Regions from separate parts of the Homo sapiens genome. Here region 1 is linked to region 2. Evidence: fine-mapped expression QTL. A gene starts in region 2. The other region holds a variant in brackets. All regions are shown on one strand. Distances are from middle to middle. Region 1 overlaps C6orf132 (chromosome 6 open reading frame 132). Region 2 holds the start of C6orf132 (chromosome 6 open reading frame 132).

Evidence for each region. PIP is the estimated chance that this variant, and not a neighbour inherited with it, causes the effect. A credible set is the group of variants that fine-mapping cannot tell apart.
Region 1: its variant is the best candidate, but not a certain one, in a credible set for the expression of C6orf132 in lung (TOPMed, PIP 0.56).

What each region holds. Positions count from the first base shown.
Region 1 is chr6:42,108,354-42,113,727 of GRCh38, reverse strand. C6orf132 (chromosome 6 open reading frame 132) reads left to right here. Exons shown (of 5, transcript NM_001164446.3): 3 at 3,437-3,512. Among named protein-coding and RNA genes, the nearest start is that of C6orf132, 32 kb to the left of the region's middle. The variant C/A (reference allele first, on the strand shown) is at 2,595.
Region 2 is chr6:42,140,305-42,145,678 of GRCh38, reverse strand. C6orf132 (chromosome 6 open reading frame 132) reads left to right here and starts at 3,059. Exons shown (of 5, transcript NM_001164446.3): 1 at 3,059-3,379. The coding sequence starts at 3,235. RefSeq lists an enhancer at 3,805-4,484.

The DNA.
Region 1 (5,374 bases), 32 kb after region 2:
TCTCCCTGCCTTAGCCTCCTGAATAGCTGGGATTACAGGCACCTGCCACCATGCCTGGCTAATTTTTGTATTTTTAGTAGAGATGGGGTTTTGCCATGTTGGCCAGGCTGGTCTTGAACTCCTGACTTCAGGTGATCCTCCTGCCTTGGCCTCCCAAAGTGCTGGGATTACAGGCGTGAGCCACCATGCCCAGCTGCCTTGGTTTTCTAAGTGAAGAAAATGGGTCTCAGTGATCTGTAGAAAAGGTAAGGTGGAAAGCCTAGGTTTGCACCCTGGCTCTGTGAAGGGATTTGAGGTGACACCGGTCACACTCTTAGTATAGGGCTATTGCACAGGAGGAGCCTGGACAATGGCTCAACATCACTGTCCCCATCCCACATCTCCACTGCTCATCCAAGGCTACACTGCTGGCAAGCCTGAGCATGAATGGAACCCAAGACTTTTGATGCTAAGTCCCCAGCCTTTCCGCTTTTCAATTATGTTGAAATTAATCAGAGATCTCAACCCTGGCTTTTGAAGGCCTGGCCTCCATCTCATCAAAATCAGAGTGTGTGTACTTGATGGAGGTTATTAGAATGTCAGTGATTTGCATGTGTGTGTGGCACATCTCAGGATGTCATGGGAGACACACTTCTGATGGGCTGGGTCCCTATACCTGCCCCTGGTTCCCAATCACTGGGTTTGAGAAAAGTTGAGAACAGGTATGTTGTTGGCCATGCAAATCAAGTAAAGGCAGGAAAAAAAAAAGACAAGTTGATGGCTCAAGGCCATTCCAGCTTCAGAATTCTTCAAGAACAAGATGAGTGGTTTGCTGATCCCAAGTGACCAGAGTAATTCTGAGATGGCCCTTGGTAACCCAGGGTCTCATAGATATTTCTGTAACATCGACCTTGAGTGCCCTTCTTGTATATTAAGTCCAGAGGGTTAGTACCATCAGCCCATCACTAACAACTGGGCTCACTATGCATCCAGCTTTGGGGGATACCATAAGACATGGTCCCTGGGCTCCAAGGAGCTCCCAGATCTCACTGAAGGAACTAGAGGACAATCTGGAGTGCAAACAAGTGTCTCCCCTCTTTTGGGAGCTTGGCTGTGGGTTGCTCTGGGTAGCAGTGGGTCAGTGTGGTGCGGACAGGGGATGGCTCCCAAGTGCTTTTTGTGCATTGCATCATTTAGTCCTCACAGCTTCCCTACTATGGGTAATTGTATTGTTATCACCATTTCCCAGATGGGGAAACTGAGACACAGGGAGATTAAGTAACTTGCATAGTCATACACCTAATAGGTAGCAGATCTGATATTCAAATCCAGACAGGCTGGAAAGCCAGAGCCAATGCTCTTATCCCCTACCCCTGTTCCATCATCCTAGAGGGGCTCAGCTAATCCTTGAAGGATAAGGGATTTTAGGGAGGCAAAATACTAAGGAGTGGGAGCTCCACAGACCTGGGTTTGGTAGTACTGGTTGTGTGACTTTAGACAACTTACCAAAGGTCTTTGAGCCTCAGTTTCTTCATCTGGTAAATGATGACATCCTCTTCTATACAGAGTGGTGTGACTGAGATAATGTGTTTAGTTAGAGCACAGTGCAAGGAGTATTATGACTATGATTATTGTTATAAATGGAGAGTGGGAATGACAGGTACAGCTGACCAATGCCCAGCATCATGGATGAACACGGACTATATGGGGTGGTTGAAAAGGTGGCAGGGAGGGAGTCGGTGAAGCTACAATGTGGGATGGGTGTAATAGGTGAGTGGGAAATAACAGTTGGCTGGGAAGCATGAGGCCAGGTCATTGGGGACCTTGAAAACTACCCTAAAATGCTCTACAGCTCTTCAAAACAGCAGGTGTGTGGACTTTGTTGACATATGGAAATGTGTGTTTGGAAAAAAAAAATAGAATGCAAAATAGTATGTACAAACTGACAGCTGTGTAAAAATATTATAGCCTCTTAAGCTTAGCGATCAGAAGGGCATCTGTAGAGCTATAAATATTCAAGTTCAGGCTGGGAACAGTGGCTCATACCTGTTATCCCCACACTTTGGGAGGCCAAGGTGGGCGGATTACTTGAGCCCAGGAGTTCAAGACCAGCCTGGGAGACATGACGAAACCACATTCTCTAAAACATATACAAAAAATTAGCCAGGGCTGGGCGCGGTGGCTCACACCTGTAATCCCAGCACTTTGGGAGGCAGAGGTGGGCAGATCACGAGGTCAGGAGTTCAGGACCAGCCTGGCCAACATGGTGAAACCCCGTCTCTACTAAAAATACAAAAAATTAGCTGGGCATGGTGGTGCACGCCCCTGTAATCCCAGCTACTCGGGAGGCTGAGGCAGGAGAATTGCTTGAACCCAGGAGGCAGAGGTTGTGGTGAGCAGAGATCATGCCATTACACTCCAGCCTGGGTGACAGAGCAAGACTCCATCTCAAAAAAAAAAAAAAAAAAAATTAGCCAGGAATGGTGGCACACATCTGTAGTCCCAGCTACAGATGGGAAGATTGCTTGAGCCACGAGATGGAGGCTGCAGTGAGCCATGATTGCACCACTGCACTCCAGCTTAGGTGACAGAATAAAACCCTGTCTCAATTAAAA[C/A]AAAAAAAAATTCAAGTTCATCACTTTTTATTTTTCTGTAAACACCTAATGAAAACTAAGAACACACAGGAGGCCAGGCTGAGGAGTTTGGCTTTTCACCTGTGGACCTCCATGGAGAGTCAATGCAGATTCTATTTGTTTGTTTTGTCTTTTTCATCGAGATGGAATTCATATACAGTCAATCCTCCCTATTTGTGGATTCTGTATTTGCAAATTTGCTTAGTGGCTAAAACGTATTTGTAACCCCAGAATCAATGCTTGTGTTGCTTCTGTGGTCATTTGCAGACATGCACAGAGCAGTGAAAATTTTGAGTTGCTCAATGCACATGTTCCCAGCTGAACAAGAGGATTCTATGCCTTCTTGTTTTAGCTGTCATACAAAAACAAGTGTCTTTTTCTGTTTAGTGTCATGTGTTATAGTGCTATCGGCCATGAGTTCAATGTTAACCAACCAACAAAATATATTAAAATGTCTTTAAGCAGAAACACAGCTAAAACAAGGTTATGGTTATGTATTGATCAGTTGACAAAAATCTTGTGACCAGAGGCTCATAGGAACCTAACCCTGTATTTCCCCTAGGAGCAACGGGTCAGTATTTACTAATACTATGTTCATTGCAACTTTATAGAACATAACTATGACAAATAGTGATGATTGGTTGACTGTACCACAAGATTCACTTTTTAAAATCAGCCTTTTATATTTTGGTATATGCACAAGGTTATGCAACCATGACCGTCACTGCAGATTTTCAAGCAGTAAAATGGCCTCAAAGAGCAGCAGTTTGAGAATTATCTGTCCATCTTTCCCTGTCCCCTGATTTCTTTCTGGTCTCTTTCAGAATGCCCAGGAAAACCATGGGCTGGCTGTGCCCACCCCCTCGGTTCCAGATGATTTTGCAGACAAAGAAGTGACAGGTAAGTGAACCCTGGGCTTGGGGCTTGTCCATCTTTCTTTCCTCCTAGGGCCCTGAGTTCAAAAGCTAAGCATCTGCTCATCTTCACAGCTGGTGACAAAGCCAGAGTCCTCAGGCACAGCCACTCTCGCCATCCTCAGTCATCTTGATTACTGGCCGCAGTGGGCTAGGGCAGTGGGGCTGGGAGTTGAGGAGAGCCACGGTCAGTGAAGGCCCCTTTCTGGCGGGGGAAGGATGGCAAGGGGACAAAGCCAGAGCAGGAACAAGTGCAGCATAAAGTGGAAGAAGGGCCTGGCTTTGAATCCCAGCTCCCCACATATTCACTTTGCTCCCTTGGGCAAGACACTTCACCCCTCCTACCTCTGTATCTTCCAACGAACGATGGGAACAACAGTTCAGTTTGGAGGAGTAAATGAAGTGGTGGATGGGATGTATGTCATGTCTGTCACACCTCTCAGAGGTGCTTCAAACTCACTAATGGCTTCCCGTGTCACTCAGAGAAAAGGTTCTTGCAAGGACTGCTGGAGTCTGACCGGAGTCTGGCCACTTTGCTTGCTTGCTTTCCCCTCCCACACTGCCCCGGCCACAGCATCTCCTGTTGCTCCTGAAATACCCCAGGCACATTTCCGCCTTGGGGTCTTTGCACTGCAGACCTCTCAGGTTAGAATGCTCTTCTGCGAGGCATCTGTGTGGCCGTCTCCCTCACTCCTCCCTTCTTTGCTCAAATGTCACCTTCTCTGCGAGGCCTTCTCAGACTGCTTTATTTATTTATTTATTTATTTATTTGAGATGGAGTCTCGCTCTGTTGCCAGGCTGGAGGGCAGTGGTGTGATCTCAGCTCACTGCAACCTCTGCCTCCCGGGTTCAAGCAGTTCTCCCACCTCAGCCTCTGAGTAGCTGGGACCATAGGTGCACACCACCATGCCCAGCTAATTTTTGTATTTTTAGTAGAGACAGTGTTTCACCATGTTGGCCAGGATGGTCTCTATCTCTTGACCTCGTGATCCACCTGCCTCAGCCTCCTAAAGTGCTCGGATTACAGGTGTGAGCCACCGCACCCGGCCGGACTGCCCTATTTAAATTGCACCTGCTGCACCCCTCCCCTGCTGGTGTTTTTTCCCATCGCACTCATCCTCTAATGTGATAATAATGTACTCACACATTATGTTCATTGTCCCGTTCAAGCGTAAGCTCCCTAGGAGGACCAGTGTTTGTCTGTTTTTTGTTTTGTTGGTTTTTTTGCTGCTGTACCCCAGCTCCTAAGTCCTGCCTGACAGTTGGGTGCTCAGTGAATGTTAGTTTTCCCCTTCCCCACTCTTGGTTTCTTCAGTTTGAAGTCAGGCAGCTGGGAGGAGCCCTTCAGAGCCGCACACTCCCCAGGTTCGCCACACTGTTAGGGACTGAGAGGAGGGGAGCAAAGGATGGGTGCCCCTAAGAAGGAAGTAGACTCTGGGAGAGGGGCTGGGGACCTGGTCCGAGGACAAGAGAGGGATGTGCGCTGCTGGGGCCAGGGGCTCTCAGCATCTCTTTAGCACCCAGATTGTCCAGGCCACCTTCCTTCTGCACACCCCTGTTCTATTCTGCAGTCCAGAATCTGCCTCCATTCTCTATGAAGTGGACAGCTGGGTTCTTAATAGTTTCAGGGTCTTTAGAAAGCAGGAGTAGTTTGTGCAAATTGCTCCCTCCTGCGGGTCTCTCACCCAGCCTTCCTCACTGAGGAGGTCTCTCGCCCCTGCCCCATGACTTCCTATCTCTTTCCCACCTTCCCTGTCTCACACAGTCTGAAAAGTTAAGCACAGATGGTAGGAATCAAAGTGGTTCCATTTTATTAAATGCCTACTGGAGGCCTGGCACCATGACAAG
Region 2 (5,374 bases):
CATTTCCTTCCTTTCAGTTACCTCCCCACTGCCCAGCTCTCCACAGGTCACTGCCTGTCTCCACAGACTATATAACAACCTGGACTCAAGAACCATGTCTTTAATTTTTCTGGCTCTTTCACAGCCCAGCGTGTGGCACACAGTGGCTCTCAAGAATATTAGTTACAGGCCGGGTGCGGTGGCTCATGCCTGTAATCCCAGCACTTTGGGAAGCCAAGGCCGGTGGATCACCTGAGGTCCGGAGTTCAAGACCAGAATGACCAACATGGTAAAACCCCATCTCTACTAAAAATACAAAAATTAGCCGGGCATGGTGGTGGGCACCTGTAATCCCAGCTACTCGGGAGGCTTAGACAGAAGAATCACTTGAATCTGGGAAGTGGAGGTTGCAGTGAGCCGAGATTGCGCCACTGCACTCCAGCCTGGGTGACAGAGAAAGACTCCATCTAAAAAATATACATATAATAATAATAATAGTTATATAGTAGAAGTTGCAAACAAATGGAGCCACTTGGCTGGCAAGGTGGCTCACGCCTATAATTCCAGCATTTTGGGAGGCTGAGGTGGGTGGATCACTTGAGGTCAGGAGTTTGAGACCAGCCTGGCCAACATGGTGAAACCCCATCTCTACTAAAAATATGAAAATTAGCTGGGCATTGTGGCGGGTACCTGTAGTCCCAGCTACTTGGGAGGCTGAGGCAGGAGAATCGTTAGAGCCCGGGAGGCGGAGGTGGCAGTGAGCCAAGATTGCATCACAGCACTCCAGCCTCGGCGACAGAGCAAGACTCTGTCTCGAAAAAAAAAAAAAAAGGAACAAAAAAACTAAAATGACATTTGAGGGGATAATTGTGAAATTCTTTTTTTGTTTGTTTGTTTTTTTTATTATTATTTATTTTTTTTTTTTTTATTTTTTTGAGACGGAGTCTTGCTCTGTCGCCCAGGCTGGAGTGTAGTGGCACGATCTCGGCTCACTGCAAGCTCCGCCTCCCAGGTTCACACCATTCTCCTGCCTCAGCCTCCTGAGTAGCTGGGACTGCAGGTGCCCGCCACCACGCCTGGCTAATTTTTTTTTTGTATTTTTAGTAGAGACGGGGTTTCACCGTGTTAGCCAGGATGGTCTCGATCTCCTGACCTCATGATCCACCTGCCTCGGCCTCCCAAAGTGCTGGGATTACAGGCGTGAGCCACCGCACCTGGCCTGTTTTTTAATTTTTTTGAGACGGAGTTTCACTCTTGTTGCCCAGGCTGGAGTGCAATGGCATGATCTTGGTTCACTGCAACCTCTGCCTCCCGGGTTCAAGTGATTCTTCTGCCTCAGCCTCCCTAGTAGCTGGGATTACAGGCACACACTTCCACGCCCAGCTGATTTTTTAAATATTTTTGGTAGAGACGGAGTTTCACCATGTTGGCCAGGCTGGTCTCAAACTCTTGACCTCAAGTGATCCACCTGCCTTGGCCTCCCAACGTGCTAGGATTACAGGCGTGAGCCACCGTGCCTGGCAATGTTAGATCTCCTGAGTGTGACAGTTGTATTGTGGCCATGTAGGAGAATGTTCCTACTCTTAGACATCGATGCTGAAGTACTGGGGGAGGCTAAGAAATGGGCCACGGTATCTACAACTTCCAAGCTTCAGCAAAATGAAAAGGAAAAGAATCCGGGAGAGAGAGAGACAGAGAGAGAGAGGGATGAATTTAGCAATGAGTTAACAATTGGTGAATCCAGGGAGAAGGGTACACAGGTGGTCATTGTACAATTCTTGTAAGTTCTCTGAAGGTTTGAAATGTTTCAGAGTGAAAAGTTGAGGGAAAACGCCTTTGGTGTAAGATCTGGGGGAAACTGAGGGGAAATGTGGCAGTGGGCCCTGTCCCCCGGAAGCTCAGCAGAAATGGCAACTTGCACCAGCCTATGCCCCCTGCTGCCCAGAAAACATCAAACTCCACCCACTTGGCCTGCACCTCTGCTCTCAGCATCTTCACGCAGGCTCTCCCCCTCCTCATCGGAGGAAATTTCCCCCGTGGATAGCCACCCCTGGCTTGGCTAGGATGTTACCCTAAGTGCCTTAAAGTACCACTGTTTGTCTCCCTGGAGAGTGAACCCAACCCTAAGTGGGCTCTACCCACTTTAGGTTTTCAAAAATTATATTCACTTAACTTCACAGAAAAAAAAGAATGTGGGCCAGGCGCGGTGGCCGACGCCTGTAATCCCAGCACTTTGGGAGGCCGAAGCCGGCAGATCACGAGGTCAGGAGTTCCAGACCAGCCTGGCTAACATGGTGAAAACCTGTCTCTACTAAAAATACAAAAATTAGCCGGGCGTGGTGGTGCGTGCCTGTAATCCCAGCTACTCGGGAGGCTGAGGCAGGAGAATCGCTTGAATCCGAGACCGGGAGGTTTCGGTGAGCCGAGATGGCGCCACTGCACTCCAGCCTGGGCAACAGAGCGAGACTCCGTCCAAAGGAAAAAAAAAAGAAAAGAAAAGAAAAGAAAAAGAAAAACAATGTGATGTACAGACACAGAATGCCAAGATTTCGTCATCCCACATTCTCTTCGGAGCCCTGTCAATGAGGATGTTTTTCCACCCTCGTCATCAGATTGGTATACTAGTTTGTCATTTTCTTGCTTTTCCCAGCTTACTTTTCTCTTACAGGCACTTCCTGATGTTCCCCGAAGCCTCACGCCCCACATATTTGAGGGGCTATAGGATGCCGTGGCGTGCTCGCTTTGGCCATCCATGTCCCTCGTGTTGGACACTAGAGCTGTCCCCGATGTACCCATACTGACCTGGTCACGAATCGCCTTGAGAGGCTGGAAACTCACCCGCCTCCTTTCCCGGACTAGGGGGAAGTGGGGTGAAGGAGGCGTGCAGGGAGGAACCTGGGGGAGGGGGTGGCCCGTCTCCCAGGCTGGGCGTGGGCCGGGCGAGGTCCCCAGCCCACCGGGCCGTGCCAACAATGGCCTGTTGTAGAAGGAGGCGGGAAGGAATGCGGCCTGGGGAGCTGGGCGGCGGCGGGGCGGGGCCCGGCCAAGCGGCTGCCTTTTACCTGGCCAGGTAGCTCGCATTTCCCGGCAAGCGGCGGCGCCCGCAGCACCTGTTGCCCGGTGCGCGGGCGGGGAGGACGGCGGGGGACATGGCCTGGTAGAGTCCCCTGGGGAGACCGTGCTGAGTTCAGTCCGGGGCAGGGCAGGGCGAGGGAGGGAAGGTCCTTCCCTGGCGCCCGCGCGGGCTGCGGCAGCATGAAAAAGAAGCAGACGGTGCAGGGCACCTTCAGCAAACTCTTCGGGAAGAAGCACACCACGACCCCCAGCACCTCCCTCTACGCCACCAATCCGCCCTGGATCTTCACCCAGGAGGCCCCGGAGGAGGGGACCGGGGGCTTCGGTGAGTACTCCGGGGACGGAGGGCGCTGGGGCGGGGACGGAGGGCGCTGGGGCAGGGCCGGCGGTGCTGTCTCCTGGAGGCGCGGAGGGGAGGGACACGTTGGAACCTGCGGACTGGCCGAGAGCAGCCGCCGGGCAGGGGAGGAGGCACCGCACAGGGGTGTCTGGGAAGGGCTGTGCGGTGAGAGAGGTGTGGGGAACGAGGGGACCCCCCCCACCACCACGGGGAGGTGGGAGAACTTTGCCGCCCCCACCTCTGACCCCAGGCCTTATTCGGAGGTGTTTAATTCCCCCTCTTGGCGAATCCTATGCTTGTGTTACTGTTAGCGGAAAGGCTTCCGGAGGTTTGCGATATCTCCCCCGACCCCCACCGCTACACCCCCATTCTGGCTGAAGCAAAAGTGTTCCTGAAGAACTGGGGGCTAAGGGGCTAAGAACTCCTCCCTCACCCTTTGCACTCCCTGTTTCCCAAGCCCACGTGGCAGAGAGGGGCCTGCTATCTGGGTGCTCACAAACTTGGCTCTGGCTAGGTGAGGCCCAGGAAAAAACAACAGGCGCAGCTGCTACCAGGTTACCAGCCTGTTTGTGACACCAAGTCACTTATTGGGGCCACAGGCTCCTGCCAGTTCAACCTGGGACCTGGGCTGTCTCTGGGCTAAGACCGAGGAGCCAGAAATGGGACAGTGGAGGCCAAGGAACCCTCTCCCTGACTGCCAGCTGCCGCTGACCCTGGAATCAGACTGGTGTGTCTCTGCAGGCCTCTAAAAGCACCGCCTTGGCTCATCCCCAGGCTCTGGCTGTGGGTCATCTTATCATTGCATCGTTTTGCAATTTGTATTCTCTATAACTAGGGGAAGCCAGCGGCTGGAGACAGAAATCCATTTCTTGTGTATGACATGTGGCTCTGGAACGCCCAGGTTGGGGGGGCAGGGGGCTTCTGGGCCCAAGGAAGGTCACCCATCACTGCTTTAGCTTGCCTGCCTTCATTCTCACCATATTATCTTCACTGATCTTTATAGCCACTGTGCTGGGACCCACAGTGGATGTCATAGCCTTGGTGCCTGCTGTTGGACTCAGTTCAGCATGCAGGTTGCCACAGCCAGGACACAAGGCACCATGGATAGGAGCAGGACGGACAAAGTGTCGCCTCTTCCTGGCACAAAGATATCAGATCAGGGGGTGAACAGAACTAACCATATGCCATTTAGCCCTTTCTGAGCCTTTGCTGTAAATGATTATTAAGCATAAAAGCAAAGAAGAGAGATGACCTCTGAGTGGAACTAGCATTCGAGCTGACAGGAGAGGGCATTCCTGGCAAAACAAACAGTAGAAGCAAAGACCAGGAGGAGCAGGGCAAGTGGAGGCATGGTGTAGGCACTCCCAGACACAGGTGTGCAGGCAAGTGCCTGTGAGCCAGGACACTTCTTTCCCTCTCAACGGAGGCACCATGGAAAGACCATTTATTAATCCCTTCTTAGGTGCAAGATGCCATTCTAAAATCTTTGTGTTACTGATTCATTGAAATCTCATCTAGAGTCAGGCACTATTATTGTCATTCCTGTTTGACAGATGAGGAGACTGAGGCACAGGGAGGTTAAGTAATATGCCCAAGATCATACAGCTTTCAATGCTGGAGGCAGCATTTTTCTAAGTCCACAATTCAATGATTTTTAGTAGACCATTTACACAGAGTTGTGCCATTATCACCACCATCTGGTTTTAGAACATTTCGATGACCTCCAAAATCTCCCTTGTGAGGCAGAACTAGTATTTGAATCCAGGCAGTCAGGCTCCAGAGATCACACTCTTAGCGGGTTTGCTGAATTAACTCTGCAGAGGAAGGCGATCCAAGTTTACTTGAGGGGCATCTGCCTGGAAAATACCACACACATACACACACACACACCCTTCCTCCCTCAAGGGGAGACCTCAGCCATGCCTCTCAGCCACGCCTCTCAGCCACTTCTGCATTTTGCCTAGGCTGTGCAGGCTGCTA